Regions from separate parts of the Homo sapiens genome. Here region 2 is linked to region 1. Evidence: fine-mapped expression QTL. A gene starts in region 1. The other region holds a variant in brackets. All regions are shown on one strand. Distances are between the middles of the regions.

Evidence for each region. PIP is the estimated chance that this variant, and not a neighbour inherited with it, causes the effect.
Region 2: its variant is fine-mapped to the expression of CHCHD6 in lung (TOPMed, PIP 0.91).

What each region holds. Positions count from the first base shown.
Region 1 is chr3:126,700,552-126,709,966 of GRCh38, reverse strand. CHCHD6 (coiled-coil-helix-coiled-coil-helix domain containing 6) reads right to left here and starts at 5,727. Exons shown (of 8, transcript NM_032343.3): 1 at 5,568-5,727. The coding sequence starts at 5,654. RefSeq lists enhancers at 4,476-5,027, 6,088-6,147 and a silencer at 5,338-5,537.
Region 2 is chr3:126,966,870-126,976,284 of GRCh38, reverse strand. No RefSeq gene overlaps it. Among named protein-coding and RNA genes, the nearest start is that of PLXNA1, 12 kb to the left of the region's middle. The variant C/T (reference allele first, on the strand shown) is at 4,024.

The DNA of each region.
Region 1 (9,415 bases):
GTCAGGACCTCTGTGGACACCAATATCTGAGGATGCTCAAGTCCCTTTTATAAAATGGCATAGTATTTGCATATAACCTACACACACCTACTATGCACAAAGATATCTTATAGCTTAACAATAAAAAGACAAATAATCCAATTAAAAATTGGCAAAAGATCTGAATACACATTTCACCAAAGAAAATATAAGGATAGGCACATGAAGAGACGCTCAACATCATTAGTTATTAGGGAAATGCAAATTCAAACCACGATGAGATACAATTTCACAGCCACTAGAATTGCTAGAATCGAAGATAATAACAAGTGTTGGTGAAGATATGAAGAAATTGGAATCCCATGTATTGCTGGTGGAAATATCAAATGGTACAGCTTCTTCAGCAAACAGTTCAGCAGTTTCTTTAAAAATTAAACCTGACAATTCACAAAATTCATAAACTGAATGACCCAACAAATCCACTCTCAGGTATCTATCCATGAGAACTAAAAACATTTGCCTGCAAAAAAACAACTTGTAAATACATAAATGTTCATAGCAGCGTTACTCACAATAACCAAGAAGTAGAAAAAATTCAAATGCCCTCAACTGGTGACTGAATAAGCCAAATGCAGTATATACATACAACAGGATACCATTCAGCAATAAAAAGGATGGACTACTGATATATACTACGACATCAATGAACCAACATCAAAAACACTTGCTCAGTGAAAGAAGCCAGAAATAAAAGATGCATTAATCATTTACGTTTACAGTCAGTCCTCCGTATCCATGGGTCCAAAGGAAAACATTTGAGAAAAAGAAACAATAAAAGATAATATACCAAAAAAATTATACAAATCTTTAAAAATACAGTATAACAACTATTTACACAAAATTTACAGTGTTTGGGTATTATAAGTAATCTGGAGATAATTTAAAGTATACAGGAGAATATGTGTAGTATATATGCAAATACACCATTTTCCATTAGGGACTTGAGCATCCAAGGATTTTGGTATCCATGGGGGTCCTGGAACCAACGACCCATGGATAGGTCATTGAAAGACCAAGAGGGGACTATCTACGAAATGTCCAGAGAAGGTAAATTTATAGAGAAACAGGATTAATGGTTACCTGGGACTGGGAGTGGGAATGGGGAGTGACTGCAAACAGGTCAAGGCATCTTTTTAGGTCTTGTAAATGTTCTATAATTGGATTGTGGTGACAGTTGTCCAATTCTGTCACCACAGTTTACTAAAAAGCATTGAAATGGGTGAATTTTATAATATGTAAAATGATGCATCCCAATAAAGCTTTTTTTTTTTTTTTTTCAAGAGATGGGGTCTTGCTACACTGGACTCGAACCACTGGGCTCAGGTGATCCTCCTGCCTCAGCCTCCCATGTAGCTGGGACTACAGGTACATACCACTGCACCTGGCTTACAACTGTTGGTTTTTGTTTTTAAAGAAAAATCAGTGTCACCAGACAGAACCTTTCCAAAGCTCTGCTCCTGACCAGAGAACTGCAGCGTGGCCTCCAGAATAACATGTTCACAGCCCTGCCTGGCATTTGGGCCCTGAGTCTGGCCTCACCACCTGCCACATCCTCAAGCATCCTACCCTCCTTGTGGCTGCCAAGCACATGGGCTATGGAGTCAGAGACCCTGAGGTTCCAGCACTGTGACCTTGGGTTACTTCACCTCACTGAACCTGTTTCCTCACTTCTGAGATGGGGATAATGACCCCTCACAAGGTAAGCATGTGGAATTTCTGGGGTGATGCTCTGAATACACTTGGCAGAGTGCTTAGCACAGAGTGAATATGCACTCTTCATAGGGCTGGCTCAGGCCACAGTCAACATCTCCTCCTGAGAGGCACTGCCTGACCATCCCACCTCAAGCAGGCAGCCCCAGTAGCTTTTGCACCCTTTTTGTTTCCTCCTTAGCTCTGGCAGCTCTTTGAGTCTTTTGCCTGTGTCTCTTCCTTTCTGGTCCATTCTCCCTACTGGGCTGAGGTCTCTATGATGACAGGGTCCTCGGCTTTGTCCCTCATTGTCTCAGCAAGGCCAGGCCCAGTGCTGGGCAAGTAACATGAAGGCAGTGGACATTCACTGAGGTGAGGAATAACTGGCAGTTGCAGGTGCAGCGCTCTGGCACACGGCCTCTCTGGCACTGGCACAATGGGGGACTCTCTTGTGTGTCTGACCACATTCTTCTTGATCTTCCCCTCCACCGTGGTCCAGAATCAGCCTCATGGGAGCAATGCATGACGGTAAAGTTGATCAAGCCTGGAGGGGATAATGACTCTGGGAACATGCAAGTGACTGGAACAGGGGTGGGCTCAGTGGTGGGAAAGGGGGAAAGGCTGGTGAACAGTGAGCAGTCTGGATGCTCACAAGCAACCAACATCAGCTGAATCACCAAAAAGGGCGGCTCATGTGGAGAGGAGGAGAGGGAAGGCAGACACATATGCGCCATGACTGCCATGTGTGCCTTCTCTTACTGAAGGATGAGGTTAAATGTACTGGTTAAAACAAAATCTTTACGTATTTCACACATTTGCTCTGAAAACTGGAGTTGAATATAACTGCAGCATTTTGCATTCATTAAATTTCTTTTACCTTCCATGGAATTACGGTTTGAACACACTTTGTGAATTTATGCAAACTAAGTATGTAAACTAGCAAGGCCTAGCACTTAATCTTTTTTTTTTTTTTTTTTAAGACGGAGTCTCTGTCACCCAGGCTGGAGGACACTGGCATAATCTCGGCTCACTGCAACCTCCCCCTCCTGGGTTCAAGGATTCTCCTACCTCAGCCTCCCAAGTAGCTGGGTGTACAGGTGTGTGCCACCATGCCCAGCTAACTTTTGTATTTTTGGTAGAGGCAGGGTTTCACCATGTTGGCCAGACTGGTCTTTAACTCCTGACCTCAGGTGATCTGCCCACTTCGGCCTCCCAAAGTGCTGAAATTACAGGCATGAGCCACCACTACCAGCCACTAACACTTAATCTTACAGGGACGAGAACACTTTCTAAGACCAGGCCTCAGGAATTAAATACAAATGGTCATTAAGAATATTCAACTTGCTCTAAAGAAGCTGGGGCAGATCTTCTTTGGCATCTGCTTCTCATTAAATGAACTGATTTGTTCCCTTTGGCAACTGTTTTGTTGATCTGGCAATCTTTTTCACTCACTTGCCTAAAGACAAGGTGAATTCCTCAACCCTCAAGTAACTCTGCTAACAGAAAAAGCCTCTACACCAAAACATCCTTTCTTCATACCATCACCTCCTTTCTTCAGTTTTCCTCTTTCAAACACAAGCAGAAGGAAGGACGTGGCTCTCATAACGTGGGGCTGTGCACCTTACTGTGCACCTCTGGACAAGTCATTTATCCTCTCTGATTAGTTTGCCCAGCTGGAAAAGAAAGCAGTCAGTCACCAAAGTTCCTTCCAGTTTTAAAACTAAGTGGGGCACTATCATCCCTGTCAGGACAGGTATGGGTATTGTCACAAAATTTTCAGGCTGCCTTGCATACATCATGGGGGGGAATTGCAGAAGTGAGAAAAAGTTGCTTTTTGCACCGAAAAGATCTTAATTAAAGTCCCAGAAGTTACTCAGGTTAACACCTTGGGCAAATTCCTTAACTCCTTTAAGCTCAATTCTCCATCTTTAAATACAGAGAATTTATATGTTGCAGAAGTATTTAAGAGAACTAGAAATGAAATGTACCTGTCTTATATAATACTCAAAAAACATGAGGTTTCCAATCAACTTGAAAGAAGGCACCCCCAAAGGCACTCCCCTGAACCTCTGAGGACTCCAACTTAACTTTCCAACATTCCCCAAAACAGGAGACCAAATCACAAGGGTGAGAGCACCCAAACAGAGCCAAGCTTATCTTTCTAAATTCCAATTCAGGTTCCTCCCTCTCGGCCTTCCAACACAAGCCATCTCCTCCCCCATTTAATCCTTGCCACGAGTGAGGTCCACAAAACTATACAACGCCTAGCAAGCACCAAATGTGCCAAGTACTCTGCTAGGCTAAGAAGAGAGGCCTCCACAAAGCACTCTCTCTGTGCGTTTCCTTAACACTTTCACAGACATCATCTTATCCTAGGCAGTACCTAGGATACATACACACCCAATTTTTTTTTTAATGTGGCCATTGAGGCTCAAAAGAGTTTTTTACCCAAGGTCACACAGCTAATGAGCACCTGCCAGAACTCCTGAAGTCTGTCTTTCTAAGCCACCTCCCTAATTCCTCCTTAATTAACTAATTCATCTACACCCAGCTCTGTGCGTTTCATTTAATCCTAGTCCCTTTTACTGGGTTCATTCATCTCTCCACAGTTACTTACAAAGCACCTGCAGGTGTAGACACAGGTGGAGGAAGAGGCCGAGCACAGCAACATGCCCTGGAATTGGCTTGTTTCAATCCCAGCTCTCCCACTTACTATTTACATGATCTTGGATCAGTTCGTTCACCTCTCAGTGCCTCACTTCTCCTTAATCTACAATAATGGGCTAAATAGGGCTGTTGAAAATTAAATCAGTTAACTTATAAAGGGTTTAGTCCAACGCATGGCCCCTACACTGCAATAAGAGCTGCTTTTATTCTTCTGGGTTCTGGGGACAGTCTTCAATCAGACAGGAACCTTAGCCTCAAAAAGCTTACACTCTAGCAGTAAACGCAATAAACAAGTAAACAATTATCAACAGAAGCGATCACTGTGATGAGTGCTATGAAAATAATAAATGTTGGACGCGGGGTGGGAGGTTACTTCAGATTGGGTGGTCAGGGAAGGATTCTCTGGTGATATCTGAATTACAACAAGAATTACAAGAAACAGCGGGATTTAAGGAGAGCTGAAGGAGAGAGAACAGCCGGCGCACAGACCCTGAGCTGAGCCAGCGGCACCCTCCAGGAAAACACGGCGGTCCTGAGGCTGGGGACGAGGTGCGGGTGCCACGCGAGGGAAATGGCACGAGATGCAGTCCCAGAGGGATGCAGTCCCCAGAGGTCGACGGGCAGCGGCCAGCTTTGGAACCAGGGAAGGCATCATCCAAGCGCGCTAGGAACCCACTGGAGGGTTTCAGGCAAGGAAGGGGATCAGATCTGAGCTATGGTTCTTCCTGCGCCCCGCAGATGTGCTGTGGAGAACAGGCCGGCGGGGAAGAGCTGAGTCCCCAGGCAAAGCCCAGGTGGGAGACACCGCGTACCCAGAACGAGATGCGCGCACCTGAGGGGCCACGGGCTGGGAGGCCGGGCGCAAATTCAAGAAACGTAAAAACTAAGCCGACCGGAGCCAGGACGTGGCCAGGGCGTCCCTCGTGTCCCAGGGGCCTCGCACCTGTACAGTTCTTCACTCCTCCTTCCCTGAAGCCCATGTCGCGAAGCTCCAAGGCTGCCAGCCTCGGGCTCGCGTCTCGGCTCAGCCTCTTCCTGGCCTGAGCCCCCGGAGTCTCCCAAGCCCCACGCCCCTCACGCGTGGAAAGAGCCCCGGCCCTGCGCTCCGCCCCGCACCTCCCCCCCGCGCCCGCGGCCTCCACGCCCGCCCCGGCCCAGGCGGCGCCGCTCACCCGGACACCCTGCAGCACCCGGACCCGCTCCTCCTCGTCCACTCCGAAGGACACCCTGCGGCCCTCGCTGCTCTCCGTGCTCCCCATGGCGAGATGCCGCAGGGCCGGCAGCCACCAGACCCGAGACCCGGCTCCAGAGCAACCGGGCCAACAACGCTTTCCAGGACTCGCGCGGCCGCGGCACACGCCAACAAAGCCACGTCCTATTGGCCGACGCCAGAGGCTTCACCAATCGGGTGGCGCTGAGTCGCGGTGCCTTGTGGGGATTGCAGTCCTTCCGTCTGGAGGGGTGGGGGCGTGGCGGTCTGTGCCTGCTAGAGTGCGTTAGGCTGAGGCCGAAGATGTGTACCGGCGGAGGCCCTGGAGTGGAGGGCTGGGTGCAGGACAGGGTCACGTTCTCGCTTTGGGAGCTCCCCCTTGAGGGAGAGCCAAGGGTGATGTTCTGAGGCCAGGAGACGCCGAGACGGCCAAGGCGCTCATCTGGAGGCGAATTTCTGAGGGTTCACTGCTCCATTCATTCAGCAAACACGTGTAGAGCAGCACGGGCTGAGCGCCAGACGAGCAGGGACCTGGCCCTGGCATTACAGCGCCCCTCAAGACAGCGAGTGTCCTGCCCTTGAGAGGTTTACAGTGCAAGGGGAAAACAAGTGAAAAGCCAAACACGCACGCAAGGAAACTGACTGTAATACACGGAAAACTGCATGGCGATGCCACTAGTAAAATGAACAGAAGGAGGCCTCTTTTAATTTCAGTGGCCAGAGCAACCTCTGAGGAAGAAGCTTTGAACTGAGCCGGCGGGAGAGTAGGATTTATGTAGAAAAAGGTAGGGGAAGAGGTTTCCTGGGAGTCTCAGGCAGGAAAAGAGAAAGAGGGGTCATCCCATGGCTGGAAAGTGAGAAGAGGGCAGAGGAGTGGTGAGGACCCAAATCATGTCGGGTCTTGTGAGGCAGGGTCTGAGTGTGGGTTTTATTCTAAACGCCCCGGGAGGACAGGGAATGGTCCTAAGCCGTTAGGAGGCATTGCCCAAGGAGTGTACATACCATGTGTGGAGTGCAGTGTGCCAGGCATTGTGTGTAGGCTTCTTACACAGGACCCTATGTGTAAGGGAGCACACAGACGGTTGCCAGTCATAGACACTGCTACCTTCAAATAAGCCCCTTTTTGTTCCTCTGAGTTGCTGAATGGCTTTGATTTGCAAAAGTGCGCCTGAAGCCGAGCTGAGGAAAACTAGATGGCTACATGAAATAGCCAGAAAATATTTGGAGCTCCTATTGGCAACCTGGAAAGAAAGGGGTGAGGAGGAGAGAATGATTGAGAGAGAGCAGTAAGGCTCTGAGATTGAGAATAGCTCAGGGTGAAGAAGCTAGTAAACATCCCAGAGCTGGTGTGACGATGGAATCTTTAGGAACAAAGGTGTCTGCTAGTTTCATTCAAAATACTTCATTGGCGCACCCCACTCCATCACCTCTGTCGTCCATTTCTTCCCTATAAGCAGAGCCTGCGTAGGGGATTCTGGTGCAAGGAGTTTCCTGGGGGAGCACCTCAGGAGAAAGGAAGTTAGGGAGACAGGCTAAGAGGGGTGGGGACCGGGGGCCGCGGGGAAAACTGAGTAAAGATGTGGTCAGACCTGGTCCTGGGCTTTCCTTTGTCTCTTTTCCTTGGAGGTTTATGATTACTAATTCAATCTCCTTACTCGTTATTGGTCTGTTCAGATTTTCTGTTTCTTCAAGACTCAGTTTGGATAGATGGTATGTTTCTGGGAATTCGTCCATTTCTCCTAAATTATCCAGTTTCTTGGTGTATAATTGTTCATAGTAGTTGATTATGATCTTTTGTATTTCTGTGATATCAGTTGTAATGTCTCCTCTTTCATTTATACTTTTGTTTATGTGAATTACCTTTTTTCTTGGTTAGTCTAGCTAAGGTTTGTTAATTTTGTTGATCTTTACTGTTGATCTTTTCTGTTGTTTTTCTAGTTTCTATTTCTGCTCTCATCTTTTTTATTTCCTTCAGTCTGCTGACTTTGGGGCTTAGTTTGTTCCTCTTCTAGTTCCTTGAGATATAAAATTAGGTTGTTTGATGTCTTTCTTTTTTCTTAATGTAGGTATTTTTCGCTATAAACTTCCCTCTTAAAAATGTTTCTATTGCATCCTATAAGTTGTGGTACCTTGTGTTTCCATTTTCATTTGTCTCAAGATACTTGTTTATTCCCCTTTTGATTTATTCTTTGGCTCATTGGCTGTTCAGGAATGTGTTGTTTAATTTCCGCACATGTGTGAATTTTCCAAAGTTCTTCCTATTACTGATTTCTGACAACAAACTATTCAAAAAGAAATTAAGAAAATGATCCCACTTACAATAACACCAAAAAGAATAAAATATGAATAAATTTAACCAAGGAGGTGAAAGAAAGATGCACACAAAAAATTGCACACTAAAAATTATAAGACACTGTTGAAAGATACTATAGGAGACATAAATAAGTAGAAAGATAGCCTGTGTTTATAGATCAGAAGAATTAATATTGTTAAAATGGCTTTACTACCCAAAGTAATCTACACATTCAATGTCATCATTATCAAAATTCTAATGACATTTTTCACATAAATAGAAAAAACAATTCTAACATTTCATATGGAACCACAAAAGACCCCAAATCATCAAAGCAATCTTGAGAAAGAAGCAGAAAGCTGAAGGCATCATACTCCCTGATTTCAAACTATATTACAAAGCTGTAGTAATCAAAAGAGTATGGTACTGGCATAAAAATAGATACATAGATCAATGCAGAAAAATAGAGAGCCCATGCATATATGGTCTACTAATGTTTGATAATGGTGCCGAGAATATACACACTATGGAGAAAGGAAAGTCTCTTCAATAATTGGAGCTGGAAATACGGGATATCCACATTCAAAAGAAGGAAATTGGACCCTTGTATTACACCACATAAAAAATCCATTCAAAATGAATTGAAGACTTAAATGTGAGATCTGAAACCCCAAAACTCCTAGAAGAAAACATAGGTGGAAAGCTTCTTATCATTGGTCTTGATGATAATTTTTTTGGCTATAACACCAAAAGCACAAACAACAAAAGTAAAAATAAACGAATGGTATGACATCAAACTAAAAAAGCTTCTCCACATAAGAGGAAACAAGCAGCAAACTGAAAAGGCAACCTACAGACTGGGAGAAAATATTTGGGCACCATATATCTGATAAGTGCTTAATATCCAAATATACTCTATAAGGAACTCACACAACTCAATAGCAAAAATAAATACCCAATTTAAAAATGGGCAAAGGACTTGAATAGACATTTTTCTGAAGAAGACATGTGAATAGCTAACAGGCATATGAAGAGCGCTCAACACCACTAATCATCAGAGAAATGCAAATTAAAACCATGGTGAGATATCACCTTACACCTGTGAGAATCAGTATTGTAATAAAGACAAGAGAAGTGTTGGTGAGGATGTAGAGAAAAGAGAACCCTGCACACTGCTGGTGGGAATATAAATTTGTAGAGCCATTATGGGAGAGAGTATGGCAACTCCCCCAAAAGTCAATACAATCTAATAATCCTATTTCTGTATAGTTAACTTTAGCCTAAAGCTGCTTCCTTGTAAGTTCAGCCTAAAGGTTGATCCATACATAGTGAACTGTAATCTAACTGGATGTGTAAACAGACTGTAACCTACTCTTATAACAAGTAGCCAAGTCTCAGCCAATCAGAAGACATACTACTCACAGGTGGCCAACTGTTCGGTGTTCAAATAAGTCTGTAACCCAGCTGTAACCAATCTGGCTATTTCTGTATTTCACTTCCATTTTATTTATGTCATT
Region 2 (9,415 bases), 270 kb before region 1:
TTCAGGGGCCAAGTAGTTGATGGAGGTAAATAGTGAGATGGGCCAAATGCCGGAGCAGGCCAGGGCTGCAGCAGCAGTAATCGGTGGAATGCATGCACATGTTATTGGGAGAGTGTGGAGTGAACAAGACCTTTCAAAAGTGTGAAGATCCCAGCCAGCAGGCCTCCAGTTTGCAGTCCGTGGCTCAGTCCAGCTCCTACCACTCCCAGAATGCTGCTTGTCATCCTGGGGGTCACAGTCAGGTCACCAAAGATGTTCCCAAGTATGGGAGCCCTCTCCAGGGCCATAGCCTCTGGAAAAGCCATCCCTGGCACCCTCTTTTTAAGGCCTAGCAGCCCTTGCCCCCACTGCCCTGCCAAGAAGCAGGGCAGCAAGAGATCAGCCTCCTGCTTCCCTGGAGATGAGGGAAGCAACCCAAGTTTTCTCATTGTGCTAAAAACACCTGGGTTAAAGTGGGGATGCTGGGTTTCCCTCCCCCATTCCTGATGTAATGGGGCAGCACCCCTCTCTGTCTACCATATGGGGTCAGGAGAGGCCAGCTGTGAAACAGAAGATTGAAATGTAATCCAGAGTCTCAACATACAATACCCCAAACTTTCAAGATCCAATAAGAAAATCACCTGTCATAGCAAGAACCAGAGAAATGTCAGTTGTACCAGAAAATACAATCAGCATACACCAATACTGGTATATGTTGAACAGGAAGGAATATCAGGATTACCTGATGAGGCTTTTAAAGCAGCCATCCTAAAGGTGCTTTGATGAGCAATTATGAACATGCTTGAAACAAATGAAAATAAAGAATGTTTCAGCAAGGAAATAGAAGTTATAAAGAGAACCAAATGGACACTTTAGAATTTTTTAAAAACATACAATAATCAGAATAAAAACTTAATCGATAACTCCAAAGCAGAACAGAGGGGACAAAGGAAAGATGCAGTGAACCTGGAGATAGAGCAATATAAACCACCCAGTCTGAAACAGAGAGAAAATAGACTAGGGGTGGGAGAAAAGAGTTCTCTGAGAGATAACAAAAGATCTAATATTCATGTCATCTAATTGCCAGGAGGAGAAGAGAAAGAGGACAAAGCCGAAAAAATATTGAAGAAGCAATCTCCTAAACTTGGCAAAAGACATAAATGTAAGGATTTAAGAAGCTGAATGAACTCCAAACGTTATAAACCCAAGGAAATCCACACCAAGACATATCACAGTCAGACTTCCAAAAACTAAACAACAACAAACCCCAATTTTGAAAGCAGCCACGTAACCACCTTCCAAAAAACATGGATGTCTCATCAGAAAGCATGGAGGCAAGAAATAAGTGGAACGTTTTTAAGTGCCATAAGAAAAGAGCTGTCAACCATAAATTCTATACCCAGTGAAACTATCCCTCAGGAATGAGGAGGAATCAAGACCTTCTCAGGTGAAGGGAAAAGTAAGTTTGTTGCCAGCAAACCTACTGTGAAAGGAGGGCCAAAGGAAGTTCTTCTCATGGAAAGAAAGTGATAAGGAAGGAATCTTGAGACATCAGGAAGAAAGTACAATGGAAAGAGCAAAACTATGGGTAAATACAATGGACCCCTTCTCTGAAGGTTTCTAAGTTACATTTGGTGGTTGAAGCAAAAATTATAGCATTGTCGAATGTCTCAATGTATGTAGAAAAAATATTTAGGATAATTATATTATAAATGGAAGGGGAAAAGGGACACAAAGAGAGGGAAGCTTTCTACATGTCACTCGAAATGGTAAAATGTTGATGGCAGTAGACTGTGATAAGTACATATGTATAATGCAGTATGGCAGCCACTAGAAATCTATACAAAGATATACACTAAAAACACTGTACAAAAACCAAAATAGATGCTTAAATATGTCCAAGTAACACTCAGCAAGGCAAAAAAAAGAAAATAGAGAAACACCACCACCAACAAACACAGGAACAAACAAAGCAAAAAATAAAACAGCAGACTGAAGTTATGTCAGTAATTACAGAAAATGTAAATGGCATAATTCCATTTATATAACATTTTTGAAATAACAAAATCATAGAGATGGAGAGGAGATTGGCGGCTGCCAGGAGCTGGGGTAGGGGGGTGATTGTCACTGTGAAAGGGAGTACCAGGGGGTCTCCATGGAGAGGGAACAGCTCTGTATCCTGGTTACAGGGACAGAAACATGGATCTCCATGTGTGATAAAGTGACACAGGGCTTGACACCCTTGTCACACCAGTGCCAATGTCCCTTTTCTGATGTGTGGTGGTTATGTAGAATGTGACCATTGGGGGAAACTGGGTGAAGGGTACACAGGCTTCTCTCTCTATTATCTTTCCAACTTCCTGTGAATCTGTAATTGTTACAGATTATCATTATTTCAATATAAAAAGTTAAAAAAAATACCTTTGCTGTTGCTCTTACACCAGCACCAACTCCACTGCTGGCGTTTCCTCTTGGGCAGAACCAGTGCCCTGTGCACCCCCATAGAGCTCACAGGCCAGCAGGCCTCTGGGGGCCATACCCAGCAGAGGCCATCACAGCAATCCTGGGCTGGGCTGCCTGGTCCCAGCTCCCAGAGCCATCTCTTCCTTCTCCAGGCCTCAGAGCTCATATCACCTCTTCAGAGGAGCCCCGATTGATTCCCTGATGGAAAATGCATCCCAGTCCCATTTAACCAACTGATAGTCTCTGGTCCATTCAGCTGTTTATTATTCCGGCCCCACAAATAGCAGCTCTGCAAGCCAGGGAGCCCATCTTCTCAGGGGCACAGAGCCTGGTGCCAGGCAGAGCATCCATCAGGGGCTGTGGGGGTGCAGTTGCTATCAGTTGCTGCAGCATCACAAGTCGCCCTAAAATGTAGTGGCTTCAGCCAGTAGCTGCTCTTCTCTCTTATGGTCTCTGCAGGGAATTCAGAGAGGACAGTGGGAAAGGCTGGTCTCTGTCCCAGTGTCCGAGGCCTCAGCTGGGACTTGCACAGGCTGCAGCTCCTCACCCACCTGTCTGGCAAGACTCCCCTGGGGCGGGGCTCTTTGGCAGCTCTGTCTAGCTCTGTGGGGCCTTTCCACAGCCTCTCCAGCATGGTGGCTTCAGGGCAGCCGACCTTCTTATGTGTCCATGCACAGCTCCCATCCAGGGGGGCAGGGAGAGGAAGTACAGAGGAGGAGAAGCGGGGGTTTGGGGCTCAGAAGCCTGGAGGGCACCACCGCTGGGCTACGCTGCATCAGGCAGATTGGTGACAAGCCCCATGGCTCTCCAGGGAACAGAGCACAGCCCCCTCTTCTGGCAGGGGTGACAGGCCCACTGTGCATTGCAAAGCCCTGCAGGACGGATGTGCAGGGGAGGCAGTCTTTGGAAAACACAATCTGCCACCTGACCAGCAGCAGGCTGCCTCCAGGGGCCTGAGCTGCTAGCCTTGGATTCCAGCCCCAGCCATGGAGAGCCTGCTGGGAGCCCCCTACCCACCCCCAGCCCCATGCATGCCTCTTTGCAGCAGCCTGCACTATTGATGGGTTGGTGCATGGGTGGGAGTGGAGCTGGAAAGGGAGGGTGGGAGTTTGGGGATCTCTTCTAACCGCCATGCCATACTCTGCCTCAGCCCTATGGAGCAACCCTGGCCCAGCGGGGAATGCCACCATGGCAGCTGGGGGCTCATCTGAAGGAGCACAGGGTTTGAAGGCAGCAACATGGGGTCCCCTCCCGACACCATCCCTCAGTGCCTTTTCGGGACCACACCACAAATCACGTGGCCCTGGGGTCTCTGTGAGGACCAGAGCAAAGAAATTTGAAGGGCCGGCCCTATGCCAGGTTCCCCAAGGCATCTTGACCACCGGGTGGGTGGGGAGGGGCCACGACTGCCCCCTTTACATGGATGAGGAAACCAAGGCATGAAGAAGTGACAGGCCCCAGGGGCATACTTGGCAACTGCTCTGGACAGCCACAGACGGAGCCACAGAGGCCCCCGGAGGAAGCAGAGAGTCGCCCTCCCCCTGCCAGCCTCTCTTCCTACCCTACCCCCACCCTCCATCA[C/T]GGGGGTGCTTTGTGCTTTCCCCGGTTCACCACGAGCTTTGCACATGATGCTTGTTCTGCTCCTCTGTTCTGGAGACAGAGGGAACAACTTATTTCCCCTGAGGTCACCCTGCTGACCTTCCTCCAGCCCCCGCACAGGCTCCTCCTCTTCTGGGAAGCCTGCCTTGAAGCACCCGCCCACCCGGCCTGGGTTGGGAGCAGCTGCAGCTCACCACAGGGCATCACCCCTTGTCCTGGGCCTGCGTCAGAAGCAGAGGTGTCCCGAGGCCCTGGTGTTGCCAGCATGGTCTGCATTCCACAGAAAATGCGCAGGCAGAACCAGCCCAGCTCTCCTGTGCCCTCAGAAGCCCAGGCCAACCGAGTTGCCCACCCTTCCTGGGCACGTGGTGTGCCAGGTACCAGCCCCAGGGACGCAGGCCCACTGAGGAGGGGGCAGCAGGGCAGCGAAGGGAGGAGCTGGACCTGAACACACAGCACCTAGCTCCAAGCCCCATGGCCTGGAGACCCCATCCAGATGGCAGAGCTTTTTGGGCTCAAGGAATAAACACCAAAATGTTTAAAATATTTAAACATTTAAACATTTAACAGCCAAAGCTAGGTGCAGTGGCATGCGACTGCAGTCCCAGCTACTTGGGAGGCTGAGGGGGGAGGATCACTTGAATTCAGGAGGTTGACTCCAGCCTGGACAACACAGTGTGACTCCATCTTTAAAAACTGAAAAATATGTATATGTTTAACAGCCAGTCAGAGTAGACACCGGACATAAACCATGGGCAGGACAGCACCGGAGGAAGCTGGCTGAAACCCGGCTTTGCTTCATCCCAAGGGACATTCATCAATGTGCTTCCCTGTCTGGCTTCAGGCAGGGCTGAATCCGGGGACTCCCATAATGTCACCAGGCATCTATTTCTTGGTTTCACCTTCCTCTGTGTGCATTCCCAGGTGTGGTGTCCCTACCTGACCCTTTGCTGCAGCCACTAGGAGGAAAATACAAGAGACTTTCCCCAACCTGGAACAGATGCTAGCAGTCTCCCCAACTTACAGCTGCACTCACCTCTCAACTTCACACTATAAGGTGGGGATGGTGTGGGGACAATTGCTCTGATATCACAGCCACCGCCGCCCCAAGTACACTTTACCCTTTGAGTTGTCTGGCCTTTTTTTTTTTTTAAGATGTTTTAATTATTAAAATATATGCTCGTTGTAAAAAAAAAATCCAAGAAATGCATAAAAGGATACAATGAAGTCGGCCTCCCTCCAGCACCTGCCCCCAGCTCACCAGAGCAAAAACTGATATGGGTGTCTCCTGTGTCCATGAAGAGACGTATACACTGTGTCCAACGTGCAGATACAGAGGGACATCCTGCCTCTCTGCAAAAAAACATACAAACTAAGAGCTGCTTTTAGATAGATCTCTCTCTCCTCCCTTCTTTCCTTCCTTTTTCCTTTCCCTTCTCCCTCTCTCCTTCTTATTTCCTTCACATACAATGCAGTCCCCAATCCTTAGGCACACAGCTCAATGAATGCATCTTTACACTTCTACACAAATACATGTGTAATCTCCACAAAACAAAGGTTCCTTCTGACCCCACCCCTCGCCCCCCAGAGAACCCCTATCCAGACTCCTTCACCATAGGTTAGTTTTGCCTATCTTTGAACTTCATATAAACAGACCCATCCAGTACCATGGCAGACATACTCCAGGTCTCCCATGAGTCAGATCTCTATAATCCCCCCCACCTTAAGTGTGTGACTTGCTTCCAAGCAATAGATTGGGCAAATGTGAAGGCATGTCCCTCTCATGATTATGTTACACATACAAGGGATCTCTTTGCTGGCAATGGAGAGTCTGTGAGCAAGTCTCCAGGCAGGGGACGACTGGTGGCCTCTAGCTGAGCTGATAGCAAAAAGACAGCCCATCGATCCTCCAGCAAGATAATGAATTCTGCCAATATCCAGGTGAGCTTGAATGAGGAGCCTGAGCTGCAGAGAGGAACCCAGGCTAGCCACATCTGGAGGGCAGTCTTGGACCTCGCTGCACCACACCAGAGCTCTGACCCACGGAAAGCAGGGGACAGACATATATTGCTGCAAGTGACTGTTTGTGGTCATTAGTTAGGAGGCAGCAGAAAGCTAATACAACCGTGAATTTTTCTGTATCTGCCTCTGTCTCTCACCGCGAGGTGTCTGAGAGATCCATCCATGTTGCTACAGGGAGCTCGAGTGTGTTCTTTTTCGTGATGCTGTAGTATTTCATCGTGTGAATAAACTACAACTTAACCATTCTACTTTCCATGGGCACTTGGGTTATTTTAACCTTGTGGCTGTGATGAGTAAGGCTCTATGAACATTCTTGTGCGTACTATTTAGAGGACATACATATTCATTCTCTTGGGTATTAACTCAGGAGTAAGATTGCTGCATCGCAGTGTAGGCGAATGTTTAACTTTGTAAGGAACTGGCAAGCCATTTTCCGAAGCAACTGTCATCCTTTCATACTCCTCACAGCAGCAGTGAGCCCCCGGGGGTTGCTCCTTCTCACTGACGCTGGGTATTGCCTGTCCTTTCACCTCAGCCATTGCTTGGATGTAGAAGCACTTCCTGGTGGTTTCAGTTTGCATCTCCCTGGTTAGTCGTGATGATGTGGAATAGTTTTTTTCTTATGCTTACTGGTCTCCCTGGAGGATTTTCTAATATTACTTTGTTAGTGCTAGGGTTTTTTTTTTTTTTTATCTGACCTTTAACCCTGAGCTGGAAGTTCAGGGAAAGAGAAATTCACCTTGTAAGGTGAGCATTGCTGGAGACTCTCACGGAGACACACGGGGTGCCTCACCTCATCTTGGCCTGGTGAGCCCCTCAGCAGAGGACCTTGCTAAGCTACACCAGAGCTTGGACCCATGGAAAGCTGGGAACAAAACAATGGGGACAGAAAGAGCTGGGCTGGAAGGAGAAAGCCCAGGTCCCAGTAACTGTGGTTAAGCCTCTAGATGCAGCTGGCCTGAAGCTCACTCCTGGACTTTTGAAGCCCACACATTCTTTGCGGTAGTCAGTTTCAGCGAGGGTTCTGTCACGTGTGCGGGAGGGGGTGACCGACACCGAGCCTCTGTCCAGCAAGCTGACATTTGGAGGCCCCCCAAGCTCTGCAGCATGGGAAAGGGTAGAGGGGATCTCTGCCTTCCAGGCACTCCCCCATCCCACCCACTGCTAGTCTGCACCCCACTTCATTACTGAGTGTGTTTTGAGGCTGAATAACCATGTAATTGGCTCGTCCATTTCATAGTCAAACTTCGGCAAATATGTTTTTCATAATTAGTTGATGTTTATTTAACGGGAATAACCAGCCCATTAAATTTAATGAGGCAGGTTATCACATATGAGGGGGAAGTGTTTTTCCTTATAGAGAACCCGGTTTGGGCGGTGCTGGTCCCAGGGCCAGGGCAATGAGGTGGCTCGCCTGTGTGTGGGTGTCTCTCCTGGGAGAGGAGGCGTGCAGGGAACCGCAGCCCCTGTCCCAGCCTGCTTCGGGCTGTCCCATCCCCTCTGCTTTTTCTGCATTGTGTACCACCCTATAGAACCTGTTTTTGATCTAGTCTGTCTCCCCCACTGATCTCTAAGCTCAGAGGACAGGGCTTTTCCCTCGTGTTGCTCATGCTCCATCTTCAGTAGATGAAACACAAAGGGTGAATAAACAACGGAGACCCCTCTTGCGGCTGCCACTCCCATGGCTTTATGGGCCTCCCTCTGGCACACAGTCGCCTCCTGCCTTGTCCCTCCTCCCCCTTCTCCTCCTCCGCAGGGTTTATGCCCTTGCCTCTCTCTGCTTGGCAGGCAGGGAAAGCAAAATACTCAAGGAGATCCAGGCTTGGCCTGGGGGCTGAACAGCTGGGCCCAGGTAGCACCCACTGAAGACCCCAGATGTGTCGGAAGAGCGGACCCCGGCCTGGCCACGACCCGACAGGCCCAGACTGTGGAAGACCATGTCCAACATCTACATTCAGGAGGCTTCTAGCCTGGGGGTAATAAACAAAATTCAGATTAACTTAGAAAAACAGAAAATACAGTCAATTATAAAACAAAAACCAAAACATCCATAATCCTATCCCCAGAGAAAAGCGCGATAACATTTTAATGTCTAATGCTGTTGACCTTTTTCTCTGGGCATCTATATATTTTTACATATGCATAGGTAAGATTTTTTTCATTTAAAGAATGGGTTTGTACAGTGCATGCTACTTCTTTAAATGGAGTGGAGAAAGTGCCACGTGAATACACTCAGTATCCCTATTCTTAGAGGCTTTAGAGCTGTCTTATGGAGGTACCACATTTTATTTCATCCCCTATTGTTGGGCATTTAGGTTGTTTCCAATATTTTGACACTATTATAAACACTAGTGGCACACACTTGTAGTCCCAGCTACTTGGAAGGATGAGACAAGAGGATCGCTTAAGCCCATGGGGTCAAGGCTGCAGAGAGCTAGGATCGAGCCACTGCACTCCAGCCTGGATGACAGAGTGAGATACTGTCTCTAAACAACAAAAGAACCCCCACCCCCTGAAAAAAGCATGAACAAAGCAGCTCCTTCACCTGGCTAGCACCAGCTCAGCCCTCTAACTTCGCATCACCTGGGCCAGGGGTTCTCAACTCCCGGGCTGTGGACCAGTACCAGTCCCTGATCTGTTAGGAACGGGGGCGGTGGGCGGCGAGCATTCCCTGAGCTCCGCCTCCTGTCAGATCAGAGGCAGCATCAGATTCTCATAGGAGTGCAAACCCTATTGTAAACTGCACATGCGAGGGATCTAGGTTGCATACTCCTTATGAGAATCTAGCTCATGCCCAGTGACCTGAGGGAAAACGGTTTCATTCTGAAACCATTCCCCACTGCCTCGACCCCATCCATGCAAAATTTGTCTTCTACAAAACTGGCCTCTTGTGCCAGAAAGGCTGGGGACCACTGACCTAGGCCAAGCCCTAAGGCCCTGAGCTTGGGGGCCTCACCACAATTGATGGCAAATGTCACCTTTCCTGCTAGATCCTAAGCCCATGAGGAAATGGACTGGTATCATTACTGCTTGGAGGGCACCTGGGATAGAATGGGGAGAGCGTAATGTTAGTTCTCTGTGTCCCTTGAGCAGCTGACTCAGAGATAAACCTGCAGGGCAGTTCTCAGGAGGTACCGGGGTCCACACCCATGTGGTGAGGGAGGGGGCAGTGGGCAGAGGGTGGGCTGGGCTAGCTCCTGAGTTGGGATCCGCTTCCAAGTCACTCCCAGTGAAGACACCCTTTATACCCCACCCCATCACCAGGCAAGGGATGAAGCCCCTGGCCCCCAGGGCGTACTGTTGGTGAAGTGGCTCTCAGCAGCCAAGGCCTTCCTGGGGGGCAGACTTGCCC